2 linked regions of the Homo sapiens genome follow. The protein of the gene in region 2 interacts with the protein of the main gene of each other region in a pairwise test. Each region holds a gene or a part of one and is shown on either strand. Other genes may lie near its edges.

The links.
Region 1: the proteins of KCNMB4 (region 2) and MAL interact in binary tests that used the Homo sapiens proteins (3 or more experiments, as listed by UniProt).

The regions. Positions count from the first base shown.
Region 1 is NC_000002.12:95,025,219-95,040,985, forward strand, and holds the start of MAL (myelin and lymphocyte protein), read left to right. Parts: upstream 1-489; 5' UTR 490-574; coding exon 575-667; intron 668-1,121; exon of another isoform or gene 1,122-1,215; intron 1,216-1,340; exon of another isoform or gene 1,341-1,811; intron 1,812-15,767. UniProt on the Homo sapiens protein: May be involved in vesicular trafficking from the Golgi apparatus to the cell membrane. Plays a role in the maintenance of the myelin sheath, and in axon-glia and glia-glia interactions.
Region 2 is NC_000012.12:70,356,816-70,372,685, reverse strand, and holds the start of KCNMB4 (calcium-activated potassium channel subunit beta-4), read right to left. Parts: upstream 6,397-15,870; 5' UTR 5,952-6,396; coding exon 5,616-5,951; intron 1-5,615. UniProt on the Homo sapiens protein: Regulatory subunit of the calcium activated potassium KCNMA1 (maxiK) channel. Modulates the calcium sensitivity and gating kinetics of KCNMA1, thereby contributing to KCNMA1 channel diversity.

The sequences.
Region 1 (15,767 bases), on a different chromosome or scaffold from region 2:
CTGCAGACCCCCAGCCTGTGGCGGTGGTCCAGTTCCGCCAGGAAACCGCCGCCTGGAGCTGTGGGTCGCGCACATTAACGCATCCAGCGGAAAAATGAAGGAGACCCAAATTCAAAGTTAAAGTAATGGTGACCCGAGAGGTGCCTTGATGAGAAGGTTTGGGGTCCCGGTTACTGATGGTTATCATTCTTACGAGATGCTGGTCACCTACGAAGGGAGAAAGGCACGAGGAGCGCCTGACCAAAGTGGTTTTGCCCTGCTTCCCGCAAGAGGTGGCACCCACGGCTGGAACGCAGGAGTCAGACCCACAGTCCCCAGCTCTGGACGCCCGCAGCGGGGCCTCGAAGAGGTTCAGGGCGGTGCCCGCGGCGCTCGGGCCGGGTCTCCCGGGGCGTGGGGCGGGGGGCGGGGTTGGGCGGCGGCCGGGGCTCCTCCCTCTTCTGCCCCGGGCTCCCCTGCTCTTAACCCGCGCGCGGGGGCGCCCAGGCCACTGGGCTCCGCGGAGCCAGCGAGAGGTCTGCGCGGAGTCTGAGCGGCGCTCGTCCCGTCCCAAGGCCGACGCCAGCACGCCGTCATGGCCCCCGCAGCGGCGACGGGGGGCAGCACCCTGCCCAGTGGCTTCTCGGTCTTCACCACCTTGCCCGACTTGCTCTTCATCTTTGAGTTTGTGAGTGGCTCCTGGCCGGGGAAGGGACGGGGTGGGCTGAGCCGTGCGCTCTCTCGGGCGCCCAGCACAGCTGTCGGACGGGATCCGCTAGCTGCGCAGGTTCTGGGAGCATCGGGGCAGCAGGCGCAGGGCGGGGACTAAGCCAGGGAAGTCCCCTCCCACCTCCGGTCCTTTGTGCCCTTCTAGACCAACAGAATGAGGGGAACAGTCTACAGGACTATGGAGGAAAAACTGGGTTCCCAACTGGGGTCAGATGTAGGCAGCGGGGCAGGGGGGGACGGCTCTTGGTTCGCTGGTCCCAAAGCTGCGCGCGGGGCCCACTTGACGCGCGCAGCGCCACCGAAGCTCCCGCCGCGCTTTGCGCGGTTGGGTAGAAGTGCGCAGCTTTTACAAGGGAGAAGGTTTCGTTAAAAAAGAAAAAAAAATCAGCAAGAGAAACATTAGTATTACCAACCGAGATTTGGAGATGAGAGGGAGCTGAATCCGGTTTATTTTCTTCTGGCCTTTTAAAGTTTCTGGCGAGGGAACGTATTTGCGACCAATTCGATCTGGAAATGAGGCCATCGTTTGCTTGGCCGCAGTCCTTCTGCCCCGTGTGCGGGGTGGGGGTGGAGGAGATGGGGGGTGGGGGGTGGGGGGTGGCGGCGAGAGCGATCCGCGCGCCTCGACTGACCTTGGGCAGGCCCGGGGCCTCTGCACCTGCGGTCGGTCCCGCCTTGCACGCACGGTCTCTGCCTGAGGCTGCAGGAAAGCGCTTCCTACTGAGAACTCCTGATAAGCGCTCACGGTGTCGCGAAGCCGAAGTGACCTCCCTCAGCCTCAACTCCCCGGGGGCCGCTGGCCTTCACCTGGGAGGGGTGTGCCCTGTATGTCCTGTGGGTGCGGTCCGTCACCGCCTGAGGGACACCTTTTCCGGCACCCCACCCTCAGAAGTGTCAGCGTGGAGAGTTGGGCGGGAAAGAAAATGTCGGAGCCTGGCTGTTTAAAAATTGGACCCCAGGTTGTTATTGCCTGATTGGAGGGGGAGGGTGTGAATACCAAAGGGAGCAGGTCAGTTCATCCAAAGAGGGCTTGCGGGCAGAGGCTAAGAGGGCTGCGGCGGCCTGGGAGCAGGGCTACCATTGAACTTAGGGTGAAAGTCCAGTCGAACCCAAACCTGGGTGGAACCGGTGACTTGAAATCCTAGGGATAGGCGGAATCAAAGCAGTTACATTTAGAAGAAACCCTGGACGCCAATGAACGCAGCCCCACCGTTTACAGAGAGCCAGCCCCCCGCTGGCCTCCTTTTAGAAGTTCAGCATACAAGAAGGAGTGCCCCTGAGAGTAGGAACAGTCCAGTTAGACGGGGCGATCTGATCTGCGGGAAAGGTGACCGGAGACTCCCACCCAACCCGCCAATGCTGCAGAAATTACAGGGGCGTGGGAAACCTTGGAACCATCTACTACTGGCAGCTTGCTCTTCCAGCGTGGCTTTGTGGCCTGCCGGTAGCGGGGCTTCCAGAAGAAACAACTCCCCCTCGCCCAGAACGCTTCTCTCAGCTGACTTAGAAAGTCACTTCTCCACCTCACCCCTGTTCCCCACCTCCCTTCCTCACTTCCCAGGAGACCCGCAATGCATAGTCATCTCCAGGCATCTTCCACATGCTCTAGATTAGGGGTGGGCTCGCAGGTGCCTGGGAGAGAAGAGGAGAAAGCTGACCCCAAGCCTCTCAGTTCTCCTCTGCATGGACTGTAAATACGAAGCTGTATATATTTGATGTGTGGAAGGAGTGGAGAATTAAAGGGCCTGAGAAGGCGCTGGCCACCCCGGGAGAGTTTTTGTTTTTGTTTTTGTTTTTGCTTTTGAGACGGAGTCTCGCTCTGTCGCCCAGGCTGGAGTGCAGTGGCGCGATCTTGGCTCACTGCAGGCTCCGCCTCCCGGGTTCACGCCATTCTCCTGCCTCAGCCTCCCAGCTACTCGAGAGGTTTTTTTAATTATGGAATATTACAACTCGACAACAAAAAGACAACCCAATTAGAAAATGGACAATGGACTTGAACAGAGGTTTCTACAAAGAAGATACACAAATGGCCAATATGCACATAAAAAGATGCTTAACATCATCAGGCATTAGGAAAACTAAATTGAAACCACAATGAGGCCAGTTGCGGTGACTCACGCCTGTAATCCCAGCACTTTGGGAGGCTGAGGTGGGTGGATCACCTGAGGTCAGGAGTTCGAGACCAGACTGACCAACATGGTGAAACCCCATCTCTACTAAAAATACAAAAAAAAAAAAAAAAAAAAAAAACCCGGCTTGGGTGGCTCATGCCTGTAGTCCCAGCTACTCAGCAGGCTAAGGCATGAGCATCGCTTGAACCTGGGAGGCAGAGGTTGCAGTAAGCCGAGATCATGCCGCTGCACTCCAGCCTGGGCAACAGAGTGAGACTCGGTCTCAAAAAAATAAATTAATAAGTAAATAAATTAAATAAATAGAAAGAAAGAAATCACAATGAGATACCACTTCACACCCATTAGGATGGCTACTATCCAAAAAACGGAAAACATCAAGTATTGGATGTGGAGAAATTGGAACCCTTGGTATGCCACTGGCGGGAATGTGAAATGGTTCAGCCACTGTGGAAAACAGTTTGGTGTTCCCTCAAAAAATTACCCTCTGACCCAGCAATTCCACTCCTGGGTATATAACCAAAGGATTCCAAGCAGGGACTTTAGTATTGGCACATGCATGTTCATAGCAGCAGTCTTCACAATAACACACAGCCCAGTGGCCATCAGCAATGAACTGAATAACAAAGTGCGACATATCCAAACAATGGATACTACCTGACCATAGAAAGGAATGAAGTACTGATACGTGCTACAAAGTTGATAAACCTTGAAAACTCTATGCTAAGCAAAAGACACAAGGCACAAAATGTCATATAGTGTATGATTCCGTTTATATAAAATACTGGAATAGATAAATCCATAGAGACAGAACACAAACCCTGGTGGTTTGCCAGGGACCAAGGGGAGCAATTGTTTAATCGCTATGTGGTTTCTTTTTGGGGGTAATGAAAATGCTTTGGAATTAGATTGAGTTGGTGGGTGCACAACACCATGAATGTACTAAATGCCACTGAACTGTCAACTTAAAATGATTGGTTTGATGATATGTGAATTTCACCTCAAGTTTAAAAAACAAAAAATAGAAATATTTCAAATGCCACAGAAGAACATATACAATACTTTAACAGACACCTACATAATTATTGCCCAACTTTGTCAAATCTTAATATTTTGCCTTGTTTGCTGTTATGTATTAAGGAAATGAAGCTTTCAGATGGCATCTAAGCCTCCTAGACATCCTTCTGTTATCTTATTCTCTCTCTCCCTCCGTCCTCAGGGCCACCTGTAGGCTGAATGTGGTGTTCACTTCCAAGCACAGGTTAGACTTTTACTGCACACATATGAACTACACATGGCATTGTTTTACATGTTTTCGCACTTTATGAAAATGCCAGCATACAGTACGTATCCTTCTGCAACATGCTTTCCAGGCAACATTATGTTCTGAGATTTATACATGTTGACTTTGTTTACCCAGTCTTCTGTTAATAGACACTTTGGATAGTTCCAATTTGCTGCCTTTAGCTATTGCAGACAGCATTGCTAAGAACATTCTCATATTTGCCTCTGTAGTTACCTGTTGGAAATGTCTCCCAGAGACACTTGGAGGATGTGACTTGTTGGGTCACAGGGGATATGCACATTGTCATTTTCCCAGGTGTTATCACATTGCCGTCCAAAAGAGTAATTCCAATTTACACACCCCAGGAGCAGATTTACTGGGAAGCTGATGTTTAATTAAGTTCAAGACCCCTACTTACTCAAGCCCCTTCCAAGACTCTGCCTAATTTTGTATTCTCTTATAAAGATGGTCCTCCTGATTGTTTAAGCTTCAGGCTAAACCTGGACCTTCCCCGGCCCCTACCAGCAGCACATGAAAGTCGCCATTGTTCCTCATCACTTGGTAGCGTCAGACTTTATAATTTTCTGCTAGTCCAATGGGTGTGAAATGCTTGATTATTTTTTAAATCTGTAGTCCACTGAGTTGTTGATGACTCATAGTTCAGATTCCCATGCCTGACCTCCCAACAGCCTGGGAGGCGCAGATGTCCAAGCTGATCCGGGTGGAGCGCCACTTCCATGGTGAGGGGACTGCCCACTGGAGCAAGTGAGGGTGGCAGCTCAGGGTGGGGCATAGCAACCTCTCCTTGGCCCAGCACCCCTATCCCAGACCTCCTGACCTCTGAAAGCTGCAGAGTCCTCACAGGAAGAGGAAGGCAGGCCCAACTAGGAAGTGAGACTGCCTTTCCAAATACCTCCAGAGCCACAGAGGCTGTGCCCCTATTGCAGGTGGTGTGGTCATCAGTGCAGCCCCATATAGGCCAAGGGTGAAATAGCCAATGCTCTCCCCTCCTCCAACAAAACCCAGGGCTTTGCTTCTCGTCTGCTCCCCTGCAAAAGTCCCACCCAGTGAGGAACTTTTCCTTTTGGAGCCACTCTCTGTCTCTGTCTCCGTCTCCATTCTAAGCCAGGGACTTCCTTGACACTGGGCCACCATTCAGGGAATGAAAGGTTCACAGGGAAGGCTTTCTGTCTCAGCTGGGGCCCCCAGATGCGAGGTCTCCCACAGAGTGCCAGGAGAGACCCCCTACCCATTCAGGACTTGTGAAGGAAGTGCCTGAAGAGGGTTGTGAGATCATCTACTCAGCCCCCTCCTCCCCAGGCCACAAAGGAGGCAGGGTTGTGAGTGAGGGTGTGAGGAATGCCGCCCAGCCCTCCAGGGGCATGCCCTTCCTCCTCTGTGCCTCAGAAACACGAACAGAAGTGCAGTCACATCACGGGTTGGGGTTGGGGTGGGGAGACACCCGCAATCAGTTTGCAGTTTTGACAGTTACAGTGAACTGGACAGAGTAATGACTAAAATGACACCTTTTCTGTGACCCAAAGTGACTGGACTGTTATTAAGAGTGACCAGAGAGGTCTGGGGACTTCTGCTAGATTTCTACCTGGCTGGGGAATAGCCAGCCCGACAGAGCCGGGACTGGGCCATGGGCCAGCGAGGCAGTTTCGCATTAGGTGGTCCAAGCTGTGGCTGCACTGAGAAGGTGGCATGGGAACTCCTAGGAGACCAGAGACGTAGAATGACAGAAACCTCACTTTCAGAGCTGGCAGGGAACTGAGGCTCAGACAGGGAGCAACTTGCCTGGGTCACCGGGTCTCCAGGGTCCAGTGAGCACTTCTGGCAGTGAGCAGATCATGCCCAGGCTTCTCCTTTCACCTAATCAGCCACACGAGATTTTGCTTGCACTAGAAGGCACACTGGGATCCTGAGTAGGCAGCCCTGCCCACCTGGCAGCTCTGGGCAAGGCTTGGTCCCTTCTCTCCCCCAACAGGAATGAAGGGACAGCTCAGGACCACTGGGAAGCTCACACCTCCTCTGGGTCTCCTTGTCAAAAACACACCCTGCAGGTTCTGAGTCACGAGGTCCAGGGCAGGTTGAAGAACCCGCATTGCACTGCACACCCTCCACTGACTGGCTGAGACTTGGAGCGGACATCTCGAGGCCAGGCCACCCTCTTGATATTTTTATGGGGGATAGAATAGTGGGAACAGTTCTCAGGGAGAGGCTGGGGCAAGCAGCCAGGTGCTCTGAGGTTCTCACAAGTCAGACCAGGGACCTCCTCTGTTCTGGAGAAAGTTCCCTGCTGTGCTAGCTAGGAGCCTCTCCTACAGGCACCAGGGAGTGGGGCAGGCCCCGCTTGGCCAGAATGGGATGGTGGCTGAGTTGGCCTTCTCTGACTGTGTCCACTGGCTCCTGGCTCTGTCCCTTCTCTGTAGCTATTTAGAGAGGGCTACTGCCTGATCTTCCGTGTTTTCTCCTCTCTTCCTCTCTAAAGGGAGGAGAAGTGTTCTAGACAGAGATTTCACAGGGGTTTGGTGGAGAAGTGACTTTTCTGGTTTTTCAAGACCAGAGGCTGGCTTTGGTGAGGACTCAGTAACTTTGAGCTGCTCCCTGGAAACTGCTAAGTGTGATGATGGGGCTCATCTCCACAGGATTGTCAGACATGTGTCATCACACCTGAGCTATATTTTAAAAGATTGCCTTTTAGCTTTTCATAAGTCACTCCCCCACCTCACAGGGATGGGGCAATGCCAGAACTGGTGCAAAGGCACCCTTTCTGTCCCAGTGCTTTCAGAAGTGAGTAGGAAGCCCCACGATGCTGCTGCCAGCAGCGCTCACACTCAGGTCGGCCAGGGACAAGGGCTGAATTTTGCACCTATACTCGCCACACCAGCAGGCGAGGGGCAGAGCATATTGTGCTGCCAGCACAGACTAGCTCTGCACAGCCTTAGCAGTGGCTTGGCTTTGTCCTGGGCCCAGACACATTCTCCAGAGAAGGGGCTGGGAGTAGGGACTGGACCACCTGGGACCTGCCTTGACACAGGACAGAGCCAGCCAGACTTGAACTAGAAGGGGCTGGGGGCTGACTTAAGCCACTCCAGGGCTTCCTCCTGGCCCCTCCAGTGTCAGTGCCGGACATGGTGCTTTGGACCAGCAGGCCTCAGGGACAGGTGCTGATAGGACACCCCAGAGGGTGTACCCTCCTGGTGTTGATGGGTGTGAGGACAGTGGGGGACTGTGCCCCTTGTCCTTGAAGCAGGAACGTTCTGGGGTGTGTGGCCAGCTCCTTCTCACAGCTTTCAGATTGTTCCCAAGGGCATGGAGCATGGAGCAGGTCCCTCGTGGTCTCTCATCAATTTGGAAGGCTCCAAATTGCCTTTGACACCCTGGTGAAAGGTTTGATACCCAGTGAGCTCCTAGCTGGGCATGAGCAGTGTAGCCATTTCCCTTCTTGGGGTCATGAACGTGCCACACTCTGCTTCTCTGCAGCACTTCTCCCCAGGCTCTCTGCCGCTGCTACCTCATTCACAGCTAGTGTTCTATGCCAGGATTGGGTGAATCATTTTAATGTACCCGGGCCCTGGGTCCTGCAAAACATATGTAGGAAATCAAAGGAAAGCCTGTCACCAGCCACAGCACCTCCGCAGCGGGAAGAGAAGGTGCAGGGTCGCACAGCCAGCCTCACTGACCTGCAGTTCCTGGCCACAGCCTCCAGTCCCTGTGAGAATGCAGTGGGCTGGGAGGGGAGGGGCTGGAAGGGCAGGGGGAGGAGACAGAAAGTGAAGGTCCCAGAACCAACTTGGAGGGAGGCCCACGGGGGGCCCGGGAGGTGGGCACTCCAGGAATAGGGCCACGGGGAAGGACAGAAGATGACGTTCCCTGACCTGTCAGTGGAGTGGGGCGGGTGGGGTCTGCATGGCAGCCCCTCCCTCTTCTTCAGACTGAACTACAGGCCTGCATCTGCCGAAGAGGGAGCGGGATCCTTTGGCATTTCATCTTGTGCTGTATGTGTCTTAAACACAAACCTTGCTATTGTTTTCCTCTGAAGAAACAGAGGATATTGAGACTCATTGTTTCAGTGGCGGGCCAGGGAGGGAGAAGCCGGCTGGGAGTGGCCTAAAGACTAAGTGGTTATTCGCCACTTAGTTAACATGGAGGAGGCTCCATGTTAACGCGCCTGTAATCCTGGCACTCTGGGAGGTCAAGGTGAGAGGATCACTTGAGGTCAGGAGTTTGAGATCAGCCTGGGCAACATAGCAAGACCCCATTTCTACAAAAAATGTAAACAATTAGCCAACTATGATGGCTTGCACCCATAGTCCCAGCTACTCAGGAGGCTGGGATGGGAGGATTGCTTGAGCCTGGAGGTCAAGGCTGTAGTGAGCTGTGATCGCATCACTGCCCTCCAGTGTGGGTGACAGAGTGAGAACCTGTCATCAAAACAAAAATCTCATGGCCATTTCCAAAGCTGACCCTAGACACAAGAGGTAACTGTCACACCCATGGGGGCCTGGATCTGGGCCTCAGCCAGCTCATCAAAGGAGCACCCGGCAGCTGTGGGAACGTGGGCAGGTAACTGTGCCTCAGTTTCTGCATCAGTAAAATTTGGACATAGCAGCACCTGCCTCACATAGCTACTGCCCCATAGCTATCAAGTGCTGTTATTATTAGTTGACTAATAATTTAAGCATCTGCTCTGAAACCAACTGGCCGACCTGTGCCGATGGCAGGGTCCGCAAGGCCCGCCCCCATCACCTTTGCCATAGGTGCCCTCTGTTCCATTCTCAGGCAGGTGCTGCATGAGGATTGGGATTGGGCCAGGCTGTGGAGGGCACACTTGACTTTTCCCTGGAGTCACCGAGTCCTGCACAGACACCACCTTCCTGGGGCCTTCCCAGTGGCTCTCCTCTCACCAAGAAGGAACAACTGAGGGCAGAGGTCAGTGTGTCCTCAGCTAAGAGCTTGATGGAGCAGCCAAGGGGTGGAGGACAGTGTGGCAGCCCCAGCCTGCCTTCTGCCCAGGGAGCAGGCTGCTTTCTAAGCCTCTCTGCATCACCCTGCCAGCCTGGTGCCAAGATGGGCAGGCAGAGCTTTGTGGATTCTGAGTGTGACACATAGCTACATCTGCCCGCAGGCGTAGGAATGAATTATCAGCAGGCTCAGATTAAAGCTTTCAAAAGCGATTTGTCATCAGTGTCAGTGTGTCGGCTGTATGCAAGGGCATCAGTTCAGGGAGGGGGCAGCCTCTGGCAAAAACCTGTGCCCTCACCTCCCCCAGCCTCCATCCTGGCCCCCAGCTGCTTGGCAGGAGGGCATAGTTGGATTGAGGGGCCTGGCAGGAAAGGAACCGCCGAGCTTATGGGTCTCAGGACTATTTCTAAAACCAGCCACAGACCTCCTTCATCTCCATCTGTGGTCAGGTTGGGGGCAGCAGTGGGAATGCTTCTTTGTTGGAGGTGACCCTTTAGGCCCGAGCTAACCCATCCCCTCCACCGGGAAGCCCACCCTTCTAGCACCCTTTCCTGGCACTCAGAGCACATCCTGCAGACCTTTGCTTATTGTCTGTCTCGTGCCTACACCCTAAGTCTGCCCACATCCCTGGCACAGATCAAGAACTCTGAAACATTTGTTCTCAGCAAGCATCGGTAGGGAAGGGGCTCGGGTCTCCTCTCTCACCTACCTAACACTGATGAATCATAAGATGAGTCCTTGACCTCAAAGGCGGACAGAGGGTGAAACTGACAAAGGCTGCCAGTCCCCAAGAGACTCTGGGAGTTCCATCTCCCTTGGACCCTCCCAGACCCTGGGCGGGCAGCCTTCTGTCGCCTCTGGCAGGTGTACACCTGTTTTGTTGGTTTGTTCACATTACTAACCTACCTGGTGACTCCCATAAATCCCTTTTGTTTTTCTTGCATTTAAGCCACTCCTGTCTGGTCCAGCATTTCCACGGATTTTGCCTTTTACAGGTGGCTTACCCAGTATTTTCACAGAACCTCTTGGTTTCTGTTTATCCTGCTGGGTAAGGCCAGCAGGTGTAGATGTGGTAGGCAGAATTTTCCATTCAAATGAAGACATGCCTATCAGAAAGCCCCTAGATTTGTGGATCTGAGAGGAGTTTTTGTGCATTCAGGAACTAGTGACCATCCTCTAGCTCATGAGGGAGGTGGGTGTTAAGTCAGCAGTCACTTTGTCCTGCTGGCAGCGTGTGCTATGGGAGAGGCTTCCCTGGGGCTCAAGGGGGGTGAGATTGCAAGCCTGAACAGGGGGCTCTTCCCAGTCCAACTTGCCTTGTTAATATAAACTATGGCCCTCCACTCAGCTCTTAGATTTTTTTTTTTTTTTTTTTTGAGACAGAGTCTTGCTCTGTCGCCCAGGCTGGAGTGCAGTGGCATGATCTCGGCTCACTGCAACCTCTGCCTCCTGGGCTCACGCCATTCTCCTGCCTCAGCCTCCTGAGTAGCTGGGACTACAGGCGCCCACCACCACACCCGGCTAATTTTTTGTATTTTTAGTAGAGACGGGGTTTCACCGTGTTAGCCAGGATAGTCTCAATCTCCTGACCTCGTGATCCGCTCACCTCAGCCTCCCCAAGTGCTGGGATTACAGGCGTGAGCCACCGTGCCCAGCAACAGCTCTTCGATCTTTTAATCCCAAATCTCTATCCCCTTCTTCACAAACTGATCCAAACCCGCTGAGTCCTGCTCTTGCCTTCAGATTAGATAAGGAACACTGTCTAAGGCTAGCTGGGGGTGATGATGGCATGAGGGGTCCCTCTGGGAGGAAGAAGCCTGCTAATGAAGAGGCCAGGAGGGGAGAGTGACTGGTGTAGGTAAACCAAGTCAGGTCCCAGCCCCGCTCCCAGGGTTCTCTTTGGTAGCAGTCCCAGGGGTCAGACTCCCAATAATCTGCCTTTTCAGTTGATGCAGGGAGAGGGTCACCACCCAGAGAATCTCGGACCCCTCCCCCGATCTCTCCTCATGGGCTCAGGTGGGGATCTTGTGCCAACTACCGGGCTCTGTACCTGTCCTGTGTGACGTTTGGTATCTGGTCACCATTGCTCAGACACTGACACTTTCACCAGGCCTGAATCCACCCTTGGTGGACCCAGAACTGCTCCAGTGGGGACTGTGGCAAGACTGCATGAGAGAGGAGAGGAAGGGAGAGATGGGCTACGTTCATTAAAGTGTGTCTTTGAATGAGATCCATTTCCCTGGGTGTGCCTGCCTTAGTGTTGACCATGCCACTGTCAGCATCTGTTAAATGCGTGAGTGAATGAATGAATGAATGACCAAGTGAGTGAGTCAGTGAGTGAGTAAGAGAGTGAGTGACTGAGTGACTAACTGAGTGACTGAGTGAGTGAGTGACTGAGTGAGTGACCAAGTGAGTGAGTGAGTGGCTGAGTGAGTGACCGAGTGAGTGACTGAGTGAGTGAGTGACTGAGTGAGTGACTGAGTGACTGAGTGTGTGAGTGAGTGACTTAGTGACTGAGTGAGTGACTGAATGGGTGAGTGAGTGAGTGAGTGACTGAGTGACTGAGTGAGTAACTGAGTGGGTGAGTGAGTGACTGAGTGAGTGACTGAGTGACTGAGTAGGTGAGTGACTGAGTGAGTGACTGAGTGACTGAGTGACCGAGTGAGTGAGTGACTGAGTGAGTGAATGAGTGACTGAGTTACTGAGTGAGTGAATGAGTGACTGAGTGGGTGAGTGAGTGACTGAGTGGGTGAGTGACTGAGTGGGTGAGTGAATGAGTGAGTGAGTGGGTGAGTGAGTGACTGAGTGGGTGAGTGAGTGAGTGAGTGACTGAGTGAGTAACTGAGTGGGTGAGTGAGTGACTGAGTGAGTGACTGAGTGACTGAGTAGGTGAGTGACTGAGTGACTGAGTGACCAAGTGAGTGAGTGACTGAGTGAGTGAATGAGTGACTGAGTGGGTGAGTGAGTGACTGACTGGGTGAATGACTGATGGGTGAGTGAATGAGTGAGTGAGTGGCTGAGTGAGTGACTGAGTGGGTGAGTGAGTGACTGAGTGAGTGAGTGACTGAGTGATTGACTGAGTGAGTGAGTGACTGAGTGAGTGACTGAGTGGGTGAGTGAGTGACTGAGTGACTGAGTGAGTGACTGAGTGACTAACTGAGTGACTGAGTGACTGAGTGAGTGACTGAGTGACTGAGTGAGTGAGTGAGTGAGCAAGCGAGTGAGTGACTGAGTGAGTGAGTGAGTGACTGAGTGAGTGAGTGACTGAGTGACTGAGTGAGTGAGTGGGTGAGTAACAGAGTGAGTGAGTGACTAAGTAAGTGAGTGAGTGAGCAAGCGAGTGAGTGAGTGACTGACTGAGTGACTGAGTGAGTGAGTGAGTGGGTGAGTGAGTGACTGAGTGAGTGACTGAGTCAGTGAGTGACTGAGTGGGTGAGTGAGTGACTGAGTGAGTGACTGAGTGAGTGACTGAGTGACTGTGTGAGTGACTAAGTGAGTGAGTGAGTGACTCAGTGAGTGAGTGACTGAGTGACTGAGTGTGTGAGTGACTGACTGAGTGAGTGAGAGACTGAGTGACCGAGTGGGTGAGTGAGTGACTTGGTGAGTGAGTGACTGAGTGAGTGAGTGAGTAACTGAGTGAGTGAGTGACTGAGTGAGTGAGTGAGTGACTGAGTGAGTGACTGAGTGGATGAGTGAGTGACTGAGTGACTGTGTGAGTGACTGAGTGAGTGAGTGAGTGACTCAGTGAGTGAGTGACTGAGTGATTGAGTGTGTGAGTGACTGACTGAGTGAGTGAGAGACTGAGTGACCGAGTGGGTGAGTGACTTGATGAGTGAGTGACTGAGTGGATGAGTGAGTGACTGAGTGACTGTGTGAGTTACTGAGTGAGTGAGTGAGTGACTCAGTGAGTGAGTGACTGAGTGACTGAGTGTGTGAGTGACTGACTGAGTGAGTGAGAGACTGAGTGACCGAGTGGGTGAGTGAGTGACTTGGTGAGTGAGTGACTGAGTGAGTGAGTGACTGAGTGAGTGAGTAACTGAGTGAGTGAGTGGCTAAGTGAGTGAGTGACTAAGTGAGTGAGTGAGTGAGCAAGTGAGTGAGTGACTGAATGAGTGACTGAGTGACTGAGTGAGTGACTGAGTGAGTGACTGAGTGGGTGAGTGAGTGACTGAGTGAGTGAGTGAGTGACTGAGTGAGTGAGTGGGTGAGTGAGTGACTGAGTGAGTGACTGAGTGACTGAGTGAGTGAGTGAGTGACTGAGTGACTGAGTGAGTGACTGAGTGACTGAGTGGGTGAGTGACTGAGTGAGTGAGTGAGTGACTGAGTGACTGAGTGAGTGAGTGACTGTGTGACTGAGTGAGTGACTGACTGAGTGAGTGACTGAGTGACTGAGTGGGTGAGTGACTGACTGAGTAAGAGACTGAGTGAGTAAGTGACTGACTGACTGAGTGAGTGACTGAGTGAGTGAGCAAGTGAGTGAGTGACTGAGTGAGTGACCGAGTGACTGAGTGAGTGAGTGAGCAAGTGAGTGAATGACCGAGTGACTGAGTGAGTGACTGAGTGGGTGAGTGAGTGACTGAGTGGGTGAGTGAGTGACTAAGTGAGTGACTGAGTAGGTGAGTGAGTGACCGAGTGACTGAGTGAGCAAGTGAGTGAGTGACTGAGTGAGTGACCGAGTGACTGAGTGAGTGACTGAGTGGGTGAGTCAGTGACTGAGTGAGTGAGTGACTGAGTGACTGAGTGGGTGAGTGAGTGAGTGAGTGACTGATTGAGTGACTGAGTGAGTGAGTGAGTAAGTGTCTGAGTGACTGAGTGAGTGAGTGAGTGAGTGAGTGACTGAGTGACTGAATGGGTGAGTGAGTGACTTGGTGAGTGAGTGAGTGACTGAGTGAGTGACTGAGTGAGTGAGTGAGTGAGTGACTGAGTGACTGAGTGAGTAAGTGTCTGAGTGACTGAGTGGGTGAGTGACTGAGTGAGTGACTGAGTGACTGAGTGGGTGAGTGAGTGAGTGAGTGACTGAGTGAGTGAGTGAGTGAGTGACTGACTGACTGACTGAGTAACTGAGTGAGTGAGTGAGTGAGTGAGTGACTGAGTGAATGGGTGAGTGAGTGAGTGACTGAGTGACTGAGTGAGTGAGTGAGTGAGTGAGTGGGTGAGTGAGTGAGTAAGTGACTGAGTGACTGAGTGGGTGAGTGACTGAGTGAGTGACTGAGTGACTGAGTGGGTGAGTGAGTGACTTGGTAAGTGAGTGACTGAGTGAGTCAGTGACTGAGTGGGTGGGTGAGTGACTGAGTGAGTGAGTGACAGTGGGTGAGTGAGTGACTGAGTGAGTGACTGAGTGAGGACTGAGTGAGTGAGGACTGAGTGAGTGACTGAGTGAGTGACTGAGTGACTGAGTGAGGACTGAGTGAGTGACTGAGTGAGTGAGTGGGTGAGTGAGCGAGTGAGTGACTGAGTGAGTGAGGGAAGCTTCCCTCTGGCTTGCTGGGACTGAGTTCCTTCGTACCAGGAGGTAGGTAGGGCTAACACAAATAAAGAAGCCAAACGGTGTTACTCCTTGCCTCTCAGAACTGGAACAGAGTCCCCTATCCTCCCTCTCAGATGCATTTTCTTAGGGGAAGAGCCGCAGGACTTTGCGGAAGCCTTCAGCATTTAGGGGTCTTGGGTCTTCCCCTGACCTCCTGCTCTGTGCATATTCATTCTCCTACCACCTGGTGCTCGGTGCCCTCTTAACTTCATCCGGGCATCAAAGCCTGTTGTGCCATTTACTTGCTCTACAGTAGCTCATCCTTAACCCAGCTCTACCTACCTACACACACACACACACACACGTGCATTCACATGCACACACATGCATGCACGTGCACACACATATACACAGGCATACACAGGCACATGCACACATACATATACACATGCATATGCGGCACCATACACATACATACACATGCACAGACATACACACATACATACATGAATACACACCTGCACGCAAACACATACACATGCATACAGAGAAGTACACACATGTGCATACATACACATACTTATAGGCACATGCATGCACATATACACAAGCATACATGTACACACACACACACATACACATACATACGCACAGAAAAATGCTTCCTACCCTCTATCTCACTCTTAGAATGATTAGCTTTAAATCAATCAACCCATAGAGCTGGGCAAAGCCTGCTGAGCCTCTCCTGAACCACACAGTTGTTTTTCTGGTCAGATGACCTACACAAAATGTCCTCCTGGCATTGAAATAACCCTTGGCTGCTAAGACGACTCAGTGAGTGAATAGATTGCCAGAAACATGAGTGGGGGGTGCTCCTCCTGGTGGCCTTGGGAAAGCACAGAAGGGCTGGGAGCTTCCCGCAGTCCTCCCAGCAGACGGGGATGAGTCCACATGCCTCCCTCGTCTGGCGGGGACATCTCTTCTTTTCCTTTCTGGGGAGATGATTTTTGCCACTTGACCTAAGTGGCAGGGGAGCTCAACAATGGTGCACAGCCTCTGTTCTGTGGCTGGTTTCCTTTACACCTCAAGAATTCAAGGCACAAACTGTTGTTCACATATGCCTTTAAAGGCACACACCACGTGCTCGGTGCTGTTGGGAATTCTGATGCTGGGCTCTGGGGACCACACCACCAGGTGTGTAGATGGA
Region 2 (15,870 bases):
TTAGGCATATGCAAAACTGAACCCTTGATTTTCATCCACACTCCTCCAGACCTACTATTCCTTTAGTTTTTCCCATCACTAAAAGCACCTCCGTTCACCCAGTTGCACTTGACACAAACTTTGGAGCCATTCTCAACTCCTCTTTCCCTCATTCCTCATATCCAATTCATTAGTAAATTTTACCAGTGCTACCCACTGATCTAAGCCACCACCATCTTTTGCCTGTCCTACAGGACTTCCTGTTTCAAGTCTTGCCTCTGCACCTCTCACTGCACAAGTCAGAATGTGTGCATGTGCATGTAAACATACATATAAATTCTGTTTTCAACTCAGCAGCGAGAGGGATCATTTGCATTTTTTAAAAGTCTAAGTCTGATGATATTTCAGCCCCGCTTAATGTCACAGATTCCCATCATGCTTGGAATAAAATCCAAAGTCCGTATCGTGTTCTTTAGGACCCTAACCTCATTTCCCACTGTCCACCTTGCTCACTGTGGTCCAACCTCACTTTCGCCCTCATAGTTCCTCACACAGACACTTGTCACAGGGCCTTTGCATGTGCTATTTCCTCAGCTGGTGGACACTCTTGTCTCCAGATAGCCACATGATTCATTACTTACATCCCTTCTGTCTCTGCTCATCCCCTCATGTTCTTTGGGTCTCTGTGTAAATGTCACTTCATCAGAGCGGCCTTCCCTGACCACCCTGTCCAAAAGAAGAGCCCTTCACGTATTTTGTCACTGTCTATACTCTTATCCTGCCCAAATTTTCTTTATCCACCTATCATTACATGACATGGCATTATACATTTATTTCTTGTCTGTTACTTCCCAGCAGAATATAAGTTCCATGAGTGCAGGAACTTTGTTTTGACCTATATTCTAGTCTCAGCACCTGAATGCACACATAGCTCAGGATACGTGTTTCATGAATATTTGTTAAGTGAACATATTCATCTTTGTATGCCCTCTAGTTTCTTGCCCAGTTCTTTGATCATTATAATAGATGCTGAAAAAGGATTTCCTGATTGAATTTTATGTATATACCAAACATTATATAACATCATCTCCAAAGGAAAAACAACCAAGAAATGCCACTTTTTCAAGATAAATAAAGGTTACAAAGAAGTCATCACAATTCTGCTTAGCCTTTTATCATGTAGTTCTGATATGATGGATGTCTCTAGAGCGCAAAATGTATCAAACTGAATGTTCCAGGAAGGAGTTCAGAAACAATTCCAGGCAGGCCACACTGCCTCTCCTACAGTGCACTGGGACAGGGTACATGAGTGGATGTGGAGAGGGCCTAGGTGACTGTGAGCCACCACGCCCTGTAGTTAGGTACATCCAACTTCAGCAAACGTAATGCCTGAAGCCTTATTCAGTCCCACCTAAGTTTTTCTTCTCCTTAATGCATTTCTCTCACTTCTAGAGTACTGGTTTCTTAGAAGGAGCCTTTTATCCTTTGTTTCTAGGTTTTTATTATTAGAGGAAGGGGAAAAAAAAACTCAAAATAAAAATAAACATATAGACCGGGCGTGTTGGCTCACGCCTGTAATCCCAGCACTTTGGGAGGCTGAGGCAGGGGGATCACTTGAGGCCAGGAGTTGGAGACCCGCCTGGCCAACATAGTGAAACCCTGTCTCTACTAAATATACAAAAATTAGCTGGGTGTGGTAGCACATGCCCGTAAGCCCAGCTACTTGGGTGGCTGATGCAGGGGAATTGCTTGAACCCAGGAGGCGGAAGTTGCAGTGAGCTGAGATCATGCCACTGCACTCCAGCCTGGACAACAGAATGAGACTCAAAAATAAATAAATAAATAAATGAAATAACCATATTATCTCTAATCACTCACTCTGTCTTGTCTCACATACAAGAGGGCAGTTTTAAAAACTCACCTTTTTTTTTTTTTGGCCATCCAATGTATATAATTATGCAAATGCAAATGTCTGGAATCAAGTTCATTTCATTTAAACTTATTGGTTTTAAACTATTATTTACATAATAATTTTAAATAATACTCTCCCTTTCCTTCAGAATTTCCTTTTATACCGACTCCCTAAATTCAGTAGCACTGGCCGGGCGCGGTGGCTCATGCCTGTAATCCCAGCCCTTTGGGAGGCCAAGGCAGGGGTGGATCACGAGGTCAGGAGATCGAGACCATCCTGGCTAACATGGTGAAACCTCATCTCACTAAAAATAGAAAAAATTAGCCAGGCGTGGTGGTGGGCGCCTGTAGTCCCAGCTACTCGGGAGGCTGAGGCAGGAGAATGGCATGAACCAGGGAGGCGGAGCTTGCAGTGAGCCGAGATCATGCCAATGCACTCCAGCCTGGGCGACAGAGCGAGACTCTGTCTCAAAAAAAAAACAAAAAAACAAAAAAAAACAAAAAATTCAGTAGCACCAACAATATCTTTTAATCTGAAAACACAAATATTAATCACAATGACTCCTTTTTGGTTCTCAGGTTGTTTTTCTTGCACAGCAGATGAGAACATTTTCTAAGACAGTGGTTTTTGAATCTTGTCTTCACATTAGAATCATCACAGAACTTTTAAAAAACATCAATGCCCAGGCCCCACCCAAGACCAAATCAGAATCTTGGAGAGTTGGACCCAGCCATAAGAACTTCTTTTTAAAGTTCCCCTGGTGATTCTAAGGTACAGCCATAGGTGAGAACCAAAGCTCCTAGCATATACAACTGTGAGTCACCAAGAGATAGTGCAGTGACTGGAATAGTAGCAAGAGGAAGTTGACCCCGAATTTAGATTTTGCTATGGTTAATCCACAGAGATAATCTCCCTGTGGACAATTTGTTGCCTTGAATACTCTATTACAAGACTGGATATAGTGATTGCTTTAGACAATAAGGATATGATTCAAAATACAAATAAATTCAGTAGGAACTCAAGGTATTTTAAAGAAATTATTAGTCAAAGATCAAATTTACTCACAGTATCTTCTTCAGCAGCTTATGGCTTAAGAAATTCTGTATTTGCAATGTATTCTTTCCCTCTCCTGCCTCTTACTGTAATTAATGCAGGAAACTCAAGGGAGAGGAAAAAACTCCTTATTCTATTTTTTCTAAGAAGTGATTTCCTAAGTGGTTTCTTGTGTTGGTGGGTCATGAAGAAAAGCCTGGAGGCGGCTGGGATTCAAGACACTGTTGGGAATCTAGACATTCTACAAAGAAACAGAGGGGAAGCATAGGCCTTCAATAAAGAGGTAAAGTAAGGCAAAGAAAAGATCTAGGCAGCCAAGAGCCAACAGGAATGGACAATGGGTATTGCCTAATTGCAGGGACACTGTGGAAACACTCTGCTTATGTACATGACTCTGGCATAATATTTTTATTACATTGAATTTTTCCATCACACTGCCTATAAGAATTTCCAAATTGAGAATTTATTGGTCAAAAATAGAAAGGTGATGCTAAAGAACAAACTTACAGTCTATAAATGATACAACATAATTATAATCTGGATAAAGAGATATAAATTGGTTTGGCTGAGAAAACCTTGACTAAAATGAATAGGATGTTGTCCATGACTTCTGTAACATAAATATATTCTTCTCCAGTTCTGTCAGTTCCTGAATACTTTACTTTATAAAATGTATTTTGTTCAGGTACTTTTTCAAAACAACTGTTGCCAAGATCTGAACTGGCACTGGAAAAAAAATGATTATTTTCAGGGGAGAGAGAGATAAAGAAAAGAGAGAGGAGAAATTTTAGTATTACATAAAGCATTGGGATTGCTTCTAGGTAATTTAAAAATCAACGTCCCAATGATTTCAATTTACTTTTTCTGCCAGATACTTCAAACTGCCTGAAAATTGTGAAGCAGTCTTTTTGTAATAAATTATAATTTGTCCTTGTCTTGATTAGATATTAGCCATTTATTAATGTGTGTGTGCATATATATGTATATATAGATATGAAATTTATTAGTGCTTGAACCACTATCTTAAAATAATTAGCAACGTTTCACCAACTATAACAACTTCTAAATGATGAACTGCCATATAATTTCTAAATCATTACTACTGGTTGGCACTCATCTTTGACATTATTGATTTAATTCTAAAAAAAAAAATGTTTCTAAAACCCTGAGATTTCTTTTTAAATTCCTGAGCATTAAGAGGATCAAGTTACAACATTTGTCTTTGAGACGTTATCACCTCTTCAAGATCTTTAACATTATACTCCAAATTCTATATTCTTAGTCCTATATTTACTGCTTATGTATTATTGATATTTTTTAAGGTAAATCAATATTCATTTGTCGACAGGAGCATTTTTTTTTTGAGAGGAGTCATTCATATTTTTAAAAAGAAATATTTTCTAAATGTCTCAAATTCAAGAATTTACTGTTCAGGAGGTAAGACCACAAGTTTTATTGCAGAGTGACGGTAAGCTGTTTTAAATACTATTATAATATTAATGTAGAATTTTTTTCTTTTGGATTAATATAAATATATCTTGTTAGAGTTAACAGAAAGTTTTCCTGTGAACACAAGATGCATTCCCTTTTGGACTGTTTTTCTGCTTGATCCCTCAAAAAAAGGAAAAATGTCAGTAACTTTTAAAAAGATACATACCTTTGATAGTTAAGCAACAAGGAGAGCAGAAAAGATCAAGGGAAGTAGAAACGGAACCAGAACCAGGTGCACTACAAAGCTCAATTAGTTCACAGGCTAAGGACACTGCTTTTTATAAGTTATTTTTCTCCATTGGGAACAGTTTTCTGAGACTTCCTCTCTCTGCTCTCCATCCCGGGAGTCCTAACCAGGTTTTATCTTTTTTTTTTTTCTTTTTCTTTTTCTTCTTGCTTGCTTTCGAGACCAATAGAAGTTGTCAGAGAAGTCATATTAGGTACATTTCACTGAAGGTTTTCTATTTTCAGCAAGTTTTACTGTTCTCCAGACGACTCCTGACTGTCCCTAAACACAAAGGGTAACTAGGCTCCCTGTAGACTCTTTTGAGAATCTATTTCATGAAAACTAGGAGCCCTCTGTACTTCCCAAAATGGACCCGCAATATTCCACATTTGATTCCGGGTCGTTTGTCAAGCCACAAAAGCTTATCTTTGAACCCCAAGTTGAAAATGCCTATGTAGAGCGAAAAGGTGAGGAACTCTCTCACAACTTTCGAGAGTCCCCTCGACCTTTCAAGGAAGGTCATTCCATCTGAGTTCTAGATGAGACCAGCTGAAGCTCGGACCTTGACCGTGAGCTGGAGTAGGTGGATCCCCGCTAACCACTGGCTTTAAATGGAGGAAAAGTTAACTTTCTTGGCTCCTTGCACTTCTCCAAACCCAGTCCGGTAGGCGCAGGACCCGGACTGGGTCGAGGCCTCAAAATCTGAGACCAGGCAAGACAGGTTTTAAAGTAAGCCTCTGGGCACCACTGGTCGCCGCGCGTAAACCCACCTGAAAAGACCGGAGCCCTGGGGCTCCCTGATGTAGTCATTCCTGGTTTGAGCACAGCCTGCGCCACCTGGTCTCCTCCTAGCAATGCGAGCACACGCCGAACCCTCCCCGCGCGGAGTCTAACACCGACGCTGCCTCCAAACCTCCCTCGCGGGGAGCCCCTGGGTGCGCGGGGCGTTCTTACCTTGGGGTTGGTCAGGAGCTGGTGCTCGTCGCTGTGCAGCAGCGCCCTAGAGTTGGACTCAGAGTTGTTCACGTAGACCTGGACGCAGGGGTACTGCGAGGTGCCCCTGCAGTCGGCGCCACAGGTGAAGGTGCACTCGAACACCTCGCCGATCTGCTGCACCGACAGCACCGTGCAATTGGCCTCCGTGGCTTGCAGATCCTGCAGCGCGGGACTCAGCCAGCAGAAGCCGAAGATGAAGAGCGACACGACGCCGGAGATGATGAGAAACAAGCCGAGCCGGATGCTCTTGTCCTCGGCTTCCGTGTACTCGTAAGCCACCCGGAGCTTCGCCATCGCCCCCCACTCTCGGCGGCTGGCGTGCTCCCCCCGCCCCCTCCCGCCCCCGGCGCCGAGCCCGACTGCCTCGGGCGGGAGGAGCCGCCGCCGCCACCGCCGCCGCCGCGCGACAGCAGGGGAGTGGGCGGCGAGGGGGAGCGCGCGAGAACAAAGGGGCCGAGGCCAGCGACGCCCCCGGCGGCGGCGGCGGCAGCGCCCCCCAGCCCCCCAGCCGCCGCCTGGGCCCCGCGGTGCAGCAGCCGCTTCAGAGCCTCCTGCACCCTCGGGCGCGGGGAGCGCACGGACCGCTCCAGCTTCCAGCGCCCCCTGCCAGCCTCCGCCCCCGCACTCTCCCCGCCTCCCCCACCCCGCCTCCTCTCGTCGGGTGTCTCTCTGTCTCCATCGCCCGCTGGCCGCTACTCCGCTGACTCGCCCGGCAGCTGCCCCAAGGCTAGGAGTGTCTGAGCTGGGGCGAGCCCGGGGGCTCCCCCGTGCAGGAGGAGGCTCCGCCCCGCCCCGTCCGCAGCAGACCCGGGCCCTTCCGCCCCGCCCCGCTCCGCCCCGCCCCGCCCGGGGGCGTCTCCTTTGGGCGAGGGGCTGACGGGCACAAGCGACAGCGGCGACTTGCAATCGGAATCTTCGCTCACTCCCCTTAGAGGGACGTCCGAGATGAAAGATTAAGATCAATTTAGCTTAACCGGAGGGAAGTTAAAATAATAATAATAATAAGAGGGGAGGGTGGAGTTCAAGTGGAGCGGCGGGAATCTTGAACTCCAAACGAGTACTGGTCACCTGCAGGGAGAGCGGCCAGGCTCCGGGCGCACCCCGGGAAGCGGGCACGGGTGGCGGTGTGGGAGGACACGAGCCGCCCAGGCCGGGCGGATCGAGGTGAAAGCCCCAGGCTAGCGGTGTGCGCTGGGAGGTCCCCGGGGACGACTGAATCGCAGGTTCCCATGCCACGGGCGGGCTGGCGCGCGGTGGTGCCGGAGGCGTGACCCAGCCGCGCCCACGCCGCCAGCGGCTGCGCCCAAGGGAGCGCAGTAACCGTCCAGTCCCAGGACTTGGGCCTCCTAACCGTCTTGGCGCAGACCCGCGCCCCCTGACCCTGCTGAGGCCGGGAGGGCTGCAGGATTGGAGTTAAACAAGCTGAGTCAGGTGGAGTTTGCTGTGGAGGCAATGTGCGTGGGGGCAGGAGGCTGGACGAAGGAAACTTGCTGCTTAGGTCGTCGGTGACCCTTGTGGCAACTTAGGTCTCTGGCAGCCGAGTTGACCCCAACTTGATTTGCCCCCATGGCTGGGGCTGACTGAGACCAAAGGAAAAAGGTGGAGAGCTTTGCAGCCTGGAAAGAAATACCACTTTACCCATCAGAAAAGTACTCTTGCTTTGGGGCTCGCAAGAACAGAATCATTTCTGTCGTTTCCCTCCTTAGGAGTCTTGCCACCCCTGACCCGCCCCAGGATTTGTAGATGAGGTTTCCAGGAGCGCTGCTTAAAGCGACAGCGCCGGGCAGACCCACTTTGGGACAGGTACTGTTTCTAGACCTGTGTTCTGCTCTTAATTCTTGCCGTTGCTCCCTCCTCCCCCAATTACGCTAACAATGCTTCAGCCTCTATTGTTTTCGCGACCTTTTTAAAGTTAGAATGACCTTTTCCCAAACTACACTTTTATCATAAAATCAAACTTGAGAACTATTTATATGTACATTTCGAAGAATAAAATCAGAATATTAACTTCCTTGCAAACTACATAAACTTTTTTTGTTTGCTTGTAAGTCTCAAATGAATAAACTCTTAATTATGTTCCTGATGAATACGGAAACATGGAATCATGGAATTCTTGACTTCTCTTTCCTGGACTTCAAATGTTACTTAACTGGTATTGAGTACCTTTCGACTGCAGTTCTGATAACGTTATTTTGAAGCACTACATTATGACAGGTAACAAGTATTTCCCAGCAATGGGCAAATTAATTACAGGAAGATCCTAAGTGTCTTTTTCTCAATAAATTAAGAAGATGTAGAGTTTGAAAAACGTCCAAATTAGGAAGATGCTTTGTTCTCTAATACCTTTCAGGTTTTGAGATTTTCTTTTTTTAATTTAAATGTAAGAATTGTATTCTTTTCCTGTTAGCATAAAGACAATTGTGATTACATTGCTTAAAAGTGAGTTTAATAATTGAAATAGCATAACCGAAAATCACAAATCTTCAATCTGAATCTTTTTCCTATTGCAGGAAAAATAAAAAACATAGGAAATAATCTTTTTTTTCTATTGTTATAATCTTCTTTTCCAAGAAAGGAAAAGCTATGTCTAAGATCTGAAGCAATGATGAACAAATAACAAGATACAATTATTCTAGCTCAGTATGTTGAGGAACTGAAATGAGGCAGAATTAATTCCTATTAATGCACAGCAGTTGGGGGACTACCAATAATTTAATGAATATGGTTCGTTTTTCAATGATTCCAGAGCTCAAAGTCTTCTGTGAATGAAACCTCTGCCTCAAAACTGAAGTACGGTGGTCTAAGTCTAGGGAACAAAATCAGAAAATTCTATCTTATTTTAACTGAAATTCTTGAAGTTTTAAAATTCATTTTCTTTCAGTTCTGCATTTAGTCAATTTCTTTCTTGGCAATTATTCTTAAAGTATTTAAAGAAACTTGTGTCTTCTGTTCTCTAGACATTTTTTTCTCCTGTTTCCTGTTTTTAATTTAGCTTTTCTCTGAACACTTTTATCTTCACATCTTTATTGAAAGTCAAACGTATTAAGACTTCACAAATTAAATCAATTTCTATTTTATTCTTAATGAAACACTGGAAGTGTTTATTAGTTTTACTTACTTGAAGCGGAGCTGCTTTATCACATTCCCAAGGAAGATTGGATATGTCAGCCCCTCAGTTTCAGAATACAGGTCACCACTTACTAAGTCAGAATGGTAGTAAGAACTCCAGGAAAGCTCAGAAATGCTAAGATCTGAGGTCACTTAAAATCTCTGTTCCCTGTGAAAGGTGGAAGTAGCACAGAAAAAGCAGCTAGTCCTTTCTTTGAATAGTGTTCCACCAATTAAGATTAAAAATGTAATATTAAGAACCAGACTGACTTATTTGATGTACATCGTCTGCAGTAGTTTTTCCAGTAGGATCATGGCCAGGTCTTGATAAAGTTCAATTTAAAAGAAAAATAAAGCCTGTCTAAACAAGGGCATCAAAGCCATGTTACTTATAATTTGTTCTCATGATCAATATTCAAAAAGTCCTGTGGCTGATGCTAAAGTTGCAGTATACAATATCATATGTATATATACTTTTTAATAAAAGATTCTAAAAATAATTTTAAGGCAGGCTTTTGTATCCTAGGAATAGAAGGGAATTTACAGCAGGTGGGAAAATTTTTTCAAAAATTGGCACATTATGAAGTTTTTTGATAACTGCCACTAAACACTTGAAAAGCGAAAATACATAGGAAAATAATGTATAATCACTTTTTCTATTAAAATTTACGTTCTAGAGTTTAGACCTTTTTTACTAGATATTACACATGATGAAAGTATGAGTGATCCAACAAAGAAAACCATATAAAACCATTTTATATTTTCTTCTTGATTCAGCAGCTATAATTATAGATTTTGTTAATGTCATAGGAAATTGAGTTCCAGCTTGCTGATACCAAATTAATTTCCTTGCCATGCTCCATTATGAGTGTTAAATATTTGTTATTAGCCTCAGAATTTTAAATTCAAAATACATTTCCTATGTGGTCACTATTTTTTCTGATTGTTTTTTCCTGGCCATAAACTTCACCTATTAAAATGAGCATATAATTATTACTAAGAACACTACTTACTATCTCTAATTACAGTAAATTAGAACAGGAAGGGATTTTAACCATTGCCTAGTTCAACATTAACCAAGAAGCTCCCAGACTTTGCATTTTGCTTGTAATTGTAGTTATTTAAAATATTTTTTAAAAGCTCAAATTTATGTTTGTGTATAGCCTTTATGTTTGCAACTGAGGAAAGCAAAACACAGACAATCAATTCACATTTTTTCCATTAAAATTTACATTCTGGATAGATTAGCAAATTTTTAATACCATACTGGTAGTGCTCTAGAGTTCCTAAAATCTCACCAACTGTTGAGTCTTTCATGTTAACTGCAGTGAATCTGTATGGGAGAGATATACACAGGTATGTAGTAAAAGGGAAATCAGCTTTGGAACTTGAAACATAGAGGCCAAGAGGTTTTGGTCCCAGCTTTAGTAGTAAATAATTTGACACAAGGTAAATAATCCTCTTAGTCTATTTTCTGTTGCTATAACTGAATACCTGAGACTGGGTAATTTATAAAGAAACTTATTTCTTACAATTCTAGATGCTGGGAAGTCCAAGAGCATGACAGTAGTATCTGGTCAGGTCCTTGTGTACCCTAACATGGCAGAAGGCAGTTCCATAGCAAGAAAGCAAGAATGCCTATTAACTCAGGCCACTGTACATATAAAGCCACCAGTCCCATCAGGCCCCACACCCTGATGACCTTATTTAATCCTAATTATCTCCCAAAGGCCCCATCTCGAAATGCCATCAAAAATATGAATTTGGGGAATATGTTCTAACACATTAAATTTGGGGGACACTTTTAAACCATAGCAATATTAGTTTCCTCCTTGTCGTACAAAAGGGTTGGTCTAGAAGAGTTTTAGTATTCTAGTATCTAATTCCCATTTTTGTTTTGCCATGCACTTTAGAAAATTGGGTATTGCTATATAACAGTATCTAGTGAAGTTAAAAGGTCTTGAACAGAATCCAAAAACATGGAGAGCCTGTCCTAGCATGATGGCTAACAGGAAGAGTGTTTGTCTTTAGAGAAATGGACCTACGTCGATGCAACACCTAATATAAGCTAGGTTATTTACAAATGCCTTAATTTAACCTTCCCATGAGAAGAAGAGGGAAAAACATTCAGAGATTAGGTAATTTTTGCAAGACTGCACACATATTGTGACAGGGCCAGGGGATTTTATATTTGCATTTTACATAGTATCTTATATTTAAGAAATACTAACTACTCGAAGATAATAAATTACCTAAAACAATTTTTCTACTATACTATGCCACTTCTAAGAAATTTGTTAACAAAAATGAAGTGTAGATAATACAAAAAGCATTTATGAATGGATTTAAAATGTGTTTCTATACTTATATTTAAGTACAGTTAGGCTTAATCAAAATCTCTACTGTGAAACGATTATGAAGGGGACGGTGAGTAGAGGCTGAAGGAACTAATAATTTAATCTGGTCCCCCTGCTTAATTTTACTCTGAATCACATTTGTGTTGAAAATAGCCTCTTCAGATGCTTAGCAAATAGTAGTAGTACTGTTTTATGTGGAACAGAGAGATTAAGTTAGGTTTCTAGTGGCTTGCTAAAAATTCAAGCTAAAATTCAAGGTAGAAGTAAATACAGGGAATAACTAGATGTGCAATAGTTATAAGGCAGAAGGAAATCCTATCCTCTGCAGACTGAAAAGCATCATCGAATATTTCTAATAATACTTTTTTTTTTTTTTGCCTTTTCTTGGACACTTCCAGTGATGGAAAGATATAACTCCTAATGATTTCTGGAACTTTTGAAAAATTATAAACTGGTACTTTATTACTGTAGATTGAAATTTGCCTTGCCATAACAGCTATGTAATGGTCCTTATTCTGTCCTCTGGCGTTATGTAGGATAAAGATATTTTTAAGAATAAAGCCTTACATGAGGCAGAATGGCGTGAACCTGGGAGGTGGAGCTTGCAGTGAGCCGAGATCGCACCACTGCACTCCAGCCTGGGCGACAGAGCAAGACTCCGTCTCAAGAAAAAAAAAAAAAAAAAAAAGGATTAAGCCTTACAAATGACTCTACCTCAGAGGTGAGAAGACAGCCATTATGTCTCTCCTAGGCCTTTTGTTATGCACAACTTCCAGTTTCTTCAGTATTCTCTTTTGATATGATGTAGGAAACTAAGGTTTTACCCTTAGTCCAAAATGCTAAGAATAATAAGTCAAAGTTGGAAAGGATGCCCCACTTTAACATTCGAAAGTCTGAGCTTTTCTTTTCCATGATATTCCAATTTACAAACACTTCTAGGATAATGGATTTTGTTGTTCAATGACAGTGTCATTGCAAATGTAGGGAATTTGGATTCCTAATAGTGATATACAAGTCAACTAATATTCAAATTTTAGACCTATATTAAGTCATTTAGAGTGAACTGAAAAAAATTATACAAAACTTTAGATAAAAAAAGGGAAATCTGGAAATAACTTTTTGAGCAGAGGAGTAACATGACTTGCATTTTTTAAAACTGAGATATAACTCATGCAATAGACAGCATGTTATATTTGAAGAATATTAACCACTTGAAGACAATAAGTTAAAACATTCAAAATAAAAAAACAAACATATCTTTCTCTTAAGAGGGGAAATATTTAACTCAAAGACAGCCCATTTTTCATGCACTGTTACATATGGTAATTAAAACTCCATCTTAAAATAAATGTTCAGTATGTAACAGATTTAAAGGTAGCTTTGAAACATTCTGGCTGCCCCAAATCTTTATTTTTATACATAAGAAGATGAAACTATTTATATCATTCCCTCATGTAATGTTTTCTCATTCAGATGTATAATTTTGAAGAATAAATGTTTAATTTAAAATAGTTTTCTCATTATAAATTAGTATCAAGAGGCCTGATTCTAAAAAGAATCAAGCAGACTCAGCGATTTGTGGACATCATACCACCCTTGAAATTTGAAGTATTCTTCCAAAATGTTTGAAGAATTCATGTATTATCATCAAAATTATCTTCATTATGCACTAGGAAATAGTTTGGCCTGGAAGAAAAAAGCATGTATTGTAAGTTTTAAAAGTAAATTATATGGTCAAAATGTCACTTAGGCCAAAAATAAATGCAAATCACAAAAACATTACATTTCAGGAAACACATACAAATTAGAGACCAGCTCTGATTCATAGTAAAGATTTGTTTTCCTCAGCTAGTGCCTTCAATTATTGTCTAAAAGAACTAACACTTTTGGCATAAAGCCAGTTTTATTTAATCTTCTCTAAGAAAGATGTCAAAACATTTTGGTGGTATGGTATGGCCTTTCAGGCCTAGAAATGAAAACTAAGATAAATTTCAAAAAGAATGAAAAATTGGCTTTGCTATGTAGAAGATAGTTTAAGTATTTTAGCACATGTCAACTGGTTATCATATGCTATTTGACTATGCAATAATTTGGATTTTCAAGATAGAGAATTATGACAATTAGGACCTTGTGAATTTTGACACTTTCAAGAAGTCATTTAAATAACTGAGAGAAAACTGTACAATAAACATGGAAATGACTAGCTTTTTAAAAAGCCCTATAAATCTTGAGTTCTTATGATAAAGAGACATGTCACTAAAATCTTGTCACAGTATTTACACAACTGTTTAATTGGATTAAAAAACCTTCAATTAATGCATACATAACTGATAATGTAATTCCCATTACATTATCAGTTTTTATACATACAAACTGAAGAGGAAATCTTAAGATCAGCAGAAATATTCCCAGGAAATAACTGAGATAAAAGCACTTTTGCTGTTTTATATTTATATATGGATTCAGCTTTCCTCCTGTTCTGCTAACAAATACTATTGTAGTAACATGGTTTCTGCCCTAGAACATTGGATGTTATAGGAAAAAGTAAATGAATGCCCCTGATACACAGGGATTATAATATTTAGTGGGATTTTAAGAAACAAGATTTTATTCTACTTAGTACTTGTACCCAGGAGATTGCACACTAATGCAACGTACAATTTCAGACTAAACATTTACGTCAAAACTTAAAAATTGTCTTTTTCCTCTTTCAAATGTAGAAATATACACATAAATAAATCTGGTGAATACACACATACATATGATTACTATTTGTTGTGCTTTATTAATGTTTCACATTCCTACTCCTAACATCAAAACAACTCTACATGTAAGTTCAATAAAGTTGCCTTTTGTAATTCTTTTTTGATTTAAATTTCTTTCCAAAGATATAGCAGTGATTTTAAGTATACCTTATCCATGATTCACAGAACAGCATATTCTTATGTACTTAAAGGTCAATGCTTTAAGTATATACCTTTTAGCCCTGATGACATCATAGTCTCCAACTTCAAATCAAGAAAAGGGTATCAGTACCTTAAAGAGCTGAAAAGAGGTCTGGAAGTAATCACATTCAACTTTTTATTTAAAAAGGCAGTCCTGTCAACTAATTGAGAGTCATTCAGTTTGTTTGCACATTGACTGAACCTTTACTTCATGAAGCAGCTAGTACTGTGTAGCACCTTAATATAGAAAAAGTCTGTTTCATTCAACTTCTCCTTATTGGTTTGAGACTTGCCCTATTCCAGTTCTTCCTGTGTTTGATGACAACTGTCATGCCTCCCCTTAGTATTCTTTAGTTGTCTCCAAGACCTACATCTCATCAATTCTAAGATGCACGTTCTTTCTTCACATAATAGATACATTCTGTAATTGGCAGCTTGTCTTAGTGGTACATAAAATGGTGTCCCTTACAATTGATGGCAATTAGATTTGCTGAAATACAGTAATTATCTCACTTACTTTAACACTTTTTCAATGAGCCACAGGAACATTAAGACATTCAACTCCTTACCTTATGCACAGAACACTATCCAGCCAGTCTCTCCTAGGTTATGTCCTATGAAGTTAAATCTAACGCCTTACAAAGCAACTGATTTAAAAATCTGAATTAACTCAGTTACTTTTTAATATTGCACTGAAATCCCTTATTTGTCCTAGTTCTGCTCTTCCAGTCACAAGAATGAGCTTAATTGCCTTTCATTGACAGCTCTTGAATTTGATACCTGAAGACAAATACCATGTTTCCAAAATTGTATTCCTATTTGTTTTTAAAATTTACTCTAAAATGGGAACACTAAATTTCACCTCATGATGCTATTCTTCAGACAACAATGTATATAAAAACACACAGCATTTGCCAGGCAGCTAGAAGGCATGCTACTTCTCCATCCCCTTCTGCCTTCCCCAGGCATGGCAGCTCTTCTAATACAGCATTCAAACAGAAGATGACATTTCAGATGAGTGATTACTTCCAGTAGAGTGGGCTTCCTATCTTTTTCTGAGTGCTATATTTTTCTTAATGTAGCTGAAGATTACATTAGTATTTTTGGCAACAGGATCACAATTCTTACTGATCTATATATGAACCACTCAAATCATGTTATATTCCACCATTCTTTATTAACAATCAAAGTGCAAAACTAAGTAATTTTCTTGATTGAATGTATCCTATTTGATTCAACTCTACACACCAAACTACTTGGTTAGATTTAGATCCCAATTTTAACCTTCAGTGAGTTTATTTGCTTCATCTTCCAGATCTGTCATGTATTCATGGTATAATCAAAGTCACTGGTAATGCCAGTGGCAAGGAGACAGCCTTGTGACCTGCCATTAGGATCCAACTTTTAGAAAGTAAAGGCATCTCAATGTCTGGCTTAGTTCATTCTCCAGAGACTATCTCAATGGAACCTAGTTAGTAGATATTTCTAGATCTTATTAACTACATAGACAAACCATGGTTAATGTATTATACAATCCTGTTTCCACACACGTATAGGTTTTCAGCAACTTTTTGCAAAATTGAGCTATTAAATCTAAGTTAAATGAAATGAGTCCTACTGTACAGCCATGCTCAGATGCCACATATTTTATGAGCAATGGATATAACAAAGTGGAAGATCTATGGCTTGTGAATAGAAGAGGATTTATCAATTAGAGAAGCTATAGACTGGAAAAATTTGAAATATTTAAAAGTTATTGAAAATGCTTAAAAAGATTATTGTGAAAATGAAATTATAGCAAAT